Homo sapiens: one gene and its partner. The protein of the gene in region 2 interacts with the protein of the main gene of each other region in a pairwise test. Each region holds a gene or a part of one and is shown on either strand. Other genes may lie near its edges.

Region 1 (3,500 bases), on a different chromosome or scaffold from region 2:
GTGACCACTCCTGAAGTGCTAGGATTACAGGTGTGAGCCACTGCGCCCAGCTAGGGTGCAAGTTTTATTGGTTTCATCAAAAAGTATCAGGGGCCAGACATGGCGGCTCATGCCTGTAATCCTAGTGCTTTGGGAGGCAAAGGCAGAAGGATCGCTTGAGCCCAGGAGTTCAAGACCAGCCTGGGCAACGTAGGGAGACTCCATCCCTACAAAAAATTTTTAAAGTAGCTGGGAGTGGTGGTGCACCACTCCCAAGTCACAGCTACTTGGGAGGCTGAGGTGGGAGTATCACTTGAGCCCAGGAGTTCAAGGCTACAGGGAGCTGTGATTGTACTGCTGCATTCCAGCCTGGGTAACAGAGCAAGACCCTGTCTCTTTAAAAAAAAAAAAAAAAAAAAGAAAGAAAGAAAGAAAGAAAAAGGCTGGGCTCATGGCTCACACCTGTAATCCCAGAACTTTGGGAGGCCGAGGCAGGTGGATCACTTCAGGTCAAGAGTTCGAGACCAGCCTGGCCAACGTGGTGAAACGTCATCTTTACTAAAAATACAAAAATTAGCCAGACCTGGTGGCGTGTGCCCATAATCCCAGCTACTCAGGAGGCTGAGGCATGAGAATCGCTTGAATCCGGGAGTCGGAGGCAGGCAGATCACTTCGGGTCAGGAGTTCGAGAGCAGCCTGGCCAACATGGCAAAACCTCATCTTTACTAAAAATACAAAAATTAACCAGACCTGTTGGCATGTGCCTATAATCCCAGCTACTCAGGAGGCTGAGACACGAGAATCGCTTGAACCCGGGAGGTTGAGGTTGCAGAGAGCCAAGATCATGCCACTGAACTCCAGCCTGGGCAACAGAGCAAGACTGTCTCAAAAAAAAAAAAAAAGATGTGTTGGGAACAGTCTGAGCCACATCATTTGAACATTCTCTCTCACAGAATGTAAACAAGTGAAATAAAAATCTACAAGCTAACCTTGGTTTTCCTTTCCTTAGCATGAGCAGAGTAATGCAGTACCATGGGTGTCGCAGCAACATTAAGGATCGAAGTAAAGTGACTGAGCTGGAAGACAAGTTTGATTTACTAGTTGATGCCAATGATGTAATTCTGGAGAGAGTGGTGAGTATTTTCCCTTACTCTTTTTTTTGTTTTGTTTTGTTTTTGAGACGGAGTCTCGCTCTGTCGCCCAGGCTGGAGTGCAGTGATGCGATCTCGACTCACTGCAAGCTCTGCCTCCCGGGTTCACAACACTCTCCTGCCTCAGCCTCCCAAGTAGCTGGGACTACAGGCGCCCGCCACCACACCTGGCTAATTTTTTTGTATTTTTAGTAGAGACGGGGTTTCACCGTGTTAGCCAGGATGGTCTCGATCTCCTGACCTTGTGATCCGCCCGCCTCAGCCTCCCAGAATGCTGGGATTACAGGCGTGAGCCACCACACCCGGCCTTCCCTTACTCTTATGGTAACTAACAAAGAGCTTTGTATTATTAAAATATACGGATAGACAGAGCAACCCAGGCACCTTAGAAAATGAAAAGGAAATAAGCTTAACATTTCTTATAATAACATTCCCTTCTAATAGTTGGTATATTTTTTCTAAAAAATAATTACAGTTGTCTTAAAAATATTACTGCCCCATGGAAGCTTCTTTTTTTTTTTTTTTTTTGAGACGGAGTCTTGCTTGGTTGCCCAGGCTGGAGTGCAGTGGGGCGATGTTGGTTCACTGCAACCTCCACCTCCCAGGTTCAAGCGATTCTCCTACCTCAGCCTCCGGAGTAGCTGGGATTACAGGCACCCACCACTATTCCTGGCTAATTTTTGTATTTTTAGTAGAGACATCGTTTTGTCATATTAGCCAAGCTGGTCTCAAACTCCTGACTTCAAGTGATCTGCCTGTCTTGGCCTCCCAAAGTGCTGGGATTACAGGCGTGAGCCACCTCACTGAGCCTGAAAGCCTGTTTTTAAAGTGCCTTATTCCAGCCAGGTGTGGTGGCTCACACCTACAATCCCAGAACTTTGGGAGGCCAAGGCGGGTGATCACCTGAGGTCAGGAGTTCAAGACCAGTCTGGCCAACATGGTGAAACCCCGTCTCTACTAAAATATAAAAACTAGCCAGGCCATGGTGGCACACACCTGTCATTCCAGCTATTCAGGAGGCTGAGGCAGGAGAATCGCTTGAACCCGGGAGGCCAAGGTTGCAGTGAGCCGCGATCATGCCACTGCACTCCAGCCTGGATGACAGTGAGACTCTGTCTCAAAAAAAAAAAAAAAAAGGTGGCCTGGCATGGTGGTTCACGCCTATAATCCCAGCACTTTGGGAGGCCGAGGTGGGTGGATCCACCTACCTGAGGTCAGGGGTTCAGGAGCAGCCTGGCGGACATGGTAAAACACTGTCTCTACTAAAAATATAAAAAATTAGCTGAGTGTTGTGGTGGGCACTTGTAATCCCAGCTACTCAGGAGGCTGAGGCAGGAGAATCGCTTGAACTCGTGAGGCAGAGGTTGCAGTGAGCCAAGATTGCACCATTGCACTCCAGCCTGGGCATCAAGAGTGAGACGCCATCTCAAAAAAAAAAAAAAAAGTTAAAGTGCCTTATTCTGGCCAGGGTCAGTGGCTCACTCCTGTAATCCTAGCACTGTAGGAGGCCGAGGTAAGAGGATTGCTTGAGCTCAGGAGTTCCAGAACCAGCCTGGGCAACATAGTGAGACCTTGTCTTTATTTAAAATTAATAAATAAATAAAGTGCCTTATTCTGAATCTGTCTTCCAGATCTGCAAATTCTGTTTTTATTTTTTTGGATACTGAAGTCTTGCTCTGTCACCCAGGCTGGAGTGCAGTGGTGCAACCATAACTCACTGCAACCTTGAACTCCTGGGCTCAAGCGATCCTCCCACCACAGCCTCCCAAGTAGCTGGGACTGCAGGTGTGCACCACCACGTCTGGCTGAATTTTTTTTTATTTTATAGAGACAATGTCTTGCTGTGTTGCCCAGGCTGGTCTTGAACTCCTCAAACAATCCTGGCCTCAAACAATCCCCCCCCACCTCAGCCTCCTTAGTCACTAGGATTATAGGCATGAGCCACTGTGCCTGACAAGATTTGCAAATTCTATTTGTGTTGCAAAAGAAGAGGCATTTATATCACCCAACCAAAATTTAGTTTATTTGTACCGTTACTCAAAATCTACTGAACCCCCTCCAGCTCACAGGATTGGAAGGAGATGTGTATTATTCTGTCTTGCTTACTATCTATTTATGCCTAATTCTATGGCAGAACGTTATTTCCACAGAAATACATAGAGATCATGGAAAACAAATCTGACTTCAACCATCTGACAGTCCTGAAAATATTTAAATCATGCCCTCCTGTCCCATGAAGTCATCTCTTCCCTAGTCTAAATGCCTACAAATCTTTCAGCAGTTTCTGGTATATTGTGATTTCAAGTCCTGCCATAATCCTATGTGTCACCTGGTTGTGCCTCTGTTAGTAGTGCCCAAGCTGATATTTCA
Region 2 (3,500 bases):
GATTGTCTTCTGGGTGCTGGGGATGCAGGGGTGAGCAAAGCCAAACCAGAAGACCCTGCCTTCCCGGAGCGCACGTTCTTGCTGGGGGGTCAGATAATAAGGAGTGCATATTCTAGGATGTTAGTAAGCCAGAAGTGTGAGGGGAGACCAAGCCAGGAAGTGACAGGGATGAGTGATGAGAAGGAGGCTGCGATCTCGCTAAGGCTGCCAGGGAGGGCCTTGCCGAGAAAGTAACTTTTGAGGAAAGACCTGAAGGAAGTGAGGGAACAAGCCATGTGGAAACCCGTGAGAACTGTCCAGGCAGAAACAGCAGAGAGTGCAAAGGCCCTGGAGCAGGAGCTTGCCTGGCATGTTTGAGGACCAGCAAGGAGGCTGTGTGGCCACTGGAGAGCGAGCCAGCAGGAGAGTGGCTGGAGCAGAGAGGCACCTGGGCAGGTCTTGTCAGAGTAAGGACTGTGACCTTTACTCAAAGGGAGATGGGATCCCACTGGAGAACTTTCAGCAGAGAAAGTGATCTGACTTATGTTTTTAGAAGATTCCCTGGCTTCTACGACAAGGATAGACTCGGGGGGAAAGGGCAAGAGCAGGCAGCCCAGTTGGCTCTGACAGCAGTGGAGATGGGAGAGGAGGGCAGTGGCAGTGGGGTGGTGGGAGGGGCTGGACTGCAAGTATATTCTGAAGATAGAGCCGCTGGGTTCTTTTGATGGATGTGAGGTCTGAGAGAAGGAGGAGTTAGGATTCACAGCAGGGCTTTTAGCCTGAGCACTTAGAAGTAGGCAGCTGCCTTTCAGTGAGAAGAACAGATTGGGGAGAGCTACCTGGAGCTCAGCCTGGTGTGGGTTAAGGTTGAGGCACCCACTGGATATCCAAGAGGAGGTGCTGATCCAGAGTGCAGAGGCAAGGACCAGGCTGGAGACATAAATTTGGGAATCATCGACATCTAGAGCACATTGAAAGCCATGAGATGGATGAGATCACCAAGTACAGGTAGAGGAGCTGGCCAAAGATGCAGCCTTAGGACGGCAACACTGAGAAGGAACCAGCAAGAGCCACTGAGCAGGGGCCACCCTGTGCAGTGGAGAGACCCAGAAGCCAAGGGAAGACAGTGTATCAAGGAGTAAGCAGCTGCATCAGGTGCTGCTGATGGGTCAAGTAACACGAGGATAGAGAAATGACCATTGGATCTAGCAATGTTGGTCACGGGCATTAATGGAGAAAACCCTTTGGTAGAGTGCTGGAGCCAGCAGTCACATTGGAGTGGGGTCACAAAAGAATAGCAGGGGAGGAATTGGAGCCGGTGAGTGTGGCAGCTCTTTGAGGCAGTTTTGCTATAAAGGGAGCAGAGAAAGGGTTGGTGGGTGGAAGAAGCCGCAGAGTTGAAAGAGGACTATTTTTGATGGAGAAAACACATTTACGTATTTACCGATGGGGATACTCAGGTGAGGATGGGGATACTCAGGTGAGGGTGGGGATGCAGGAGAGTGTAAGCATGCTGGACCATTCCTTCAGTGGGGCAAGAGCTTGGGACCAGATCTAGTGCCCTTGTGCCCGGGAGAGTGGCTGGCCTCCCAGGGTTGTCAAGCTACGGCGTTAAAGTACCAGACTTAAAGAGGTACTCCATCATCTCTTAGTCCCCTTTGTTTGGAAGTTCGTGTCTTGGGAGAAGACAGCTGAGAAAACAGCCCTCCCAACTGCCTGCTGAAGGTAAGGGGAGGAGCCGCAGCAGCTTGGCTCTGCTCTGAATCCAGCCGTCTGTGTCACTGTCCTCACAGGGTCTGGAGGAGGGGATCTCACAGATCACATCCAAGAGCCAAGATGTGCGGCAAGCACTGGTGTGGAACTTCCCCATTGATGTCACCTTTAAAAGCACCAACCCCTACGGCTGTGAGTCTGCAGGGGCCCTGTGGGGTAGGGTGGCAGAGCTTTCACACAGCACCCCCAAGACAGCCTCTGCCTCATCCAGCCCATGACTGTTCACATTCAGATTGTCACCTGGGCTCTTGAAGCAGCCCTCAACGTTCTCTCTCGCCATCTGTCCCTTTCCCTCCTCTTCTTCCTCATCCCCACTCACCCCCTTCATCTGCTACAGGCTGTGCAGCTGGCCTTCTGGAAGTTCAGAGTGCATCAGGGCTAGTGGCCACGCCTGTAAAAGGCAGGCTCCCCACCCTGGCATGCAGGACTGTGGCTGTTTGGCCTGGAGGCCTGACTCTGTGCCTGCTGACTTCCCATGGCGTGTTGTGTTCCGGCTAGACCCTGGCACTTTCTCCTCCTGTGCTAGTCCCTCAACTTTCTTCATCTGAGCTTTATTCATGCCGATCCATCTGTCTGGATACCATTCCCACGTCCTATGTCTAACCTCTTTCCCAAGGGCTTCCTGGCTGGCATTGCTTACTTTCTACCTTGGCTGGTGGTTATTAACCATTCTGATTGTTCACTTGCACTTCATAAGTGCCTACTGTGCACAAAGCCTGGGCTTAGTCTCCATGGGGACTATGAATACTTTCACTGTGTGGACTTATCCGAGCTTCCCAATCATACCTGCTGGAGAGATTTCTCTCCATTTCTTTTCCCATATAAGGAAACTGACACTCAAAATTGACATCATTTGCCTTCTGCTTTACATCTAGTGACCAAGTGTGGATTTTAATTCAGGCCCATCTGATTTCACAATCTAGGCCTTTCTACTGCACGTGGCCTGGGCCTAGGCTTACCACGGTGTGGAGGGTCTGGAGCAGAAAATGCTTGGTGGTCCTCCTGAGCAGGGAATTCCATCCTGCTGTCATCATCCATGAGTAGGAAGTTTCAATAGACTTCCTGGAACAGTGCAATAGGTACTGTAGGTACTGGACGAACCTCCTCCTGCCGAGGACAGGTAGGAGAGGTAAATGTAATACACAAAAGCAAAAACAAAAAGCAACTACCTCAGAGGCATCAGAGAGCTAGCAAAGTAGAAGAGATTTACCAGGCAAGATCCAGGAGAACAGAAATCCAGAGAGGTTACCCCAATCCCATCTCCTCTGGGAGTGTTTGCTGATTTCAATAGAGGTGATTGAGAGACTGATCAAGACTTTTGACAGCCTCTCTGGGTCCAGGACACAAAAAAACTGATGTTCAGAGCCTTCCAAGGGGTTGGGAGGAGGGCCTCAGGTAAATCTCACCAACTGGGTTAAGACCTCAAAGAGCTGCCCTAGGAATAAGGGAGAGATGGAAGCAGAGCAGCCTCACAGGGATTTCAGCTCAGCCCCTGATGATTTCAACCTCCTGATTCTTCTATTCAGCTCCAAGATTGTTACACCAAGGCACCTGACAAAAACAAATTAGAAACCTCTTTGGGCTGGGCATGGTGGCTCATGCCTGTAATTCCAGCACTTTGGGAGGCTGAGGCAGGCAGATCGCCTGAGCTCAGGAGTTTAAGACCAGCCTGGGCAATATGGCAAAAATCTCTCTCTACTAAAAATACGAAAATTAGCTTGGCATGGGGGTGGGCGCCTGTAATCTTA

Evidence for each region. The genes of interacting proteins can lie anywhere in the genome.
Region 1: the proteins of B9D1 (region 2) and EXOSC10 interact in a two-hybrid assay, tested with the Homo sapiens proteins (one large-scale study listed by BioGRID and IntAct).

The regions. Positions count from the first base shown.
Region 1 is NC_000001.11:11,093,370-11,096,869, reverse strand, and holds part of EXOSC10 (exosome complex component 10), read left to right. Parts: intron 1-988; coding exon 989-1,112; intron 1,113-3,500. UniProt on the Homo sapiens protein: Catalytic component of the RNA exosome complex which has 3'->5' exoribonuclease activity and participates in a multitude of cellular RNA processing and degradation events.
Region 2 is NC_000017.11:19,356,224-19,359,723, reverse strand, and holds part of B9D1 (B9 domain-containing protein 1), read left to right. Parts: intron 1-1,772; coding exon 1,773-1,884; intron 1,885-3,500. UniProt on the Homo sapiens protein: Component of the tectonic-like complex, a complex localized at the transition zone of primary cilia and acting as a barrier that prevents diffusion of transmembrane proteins between the cilia and plasma membranes.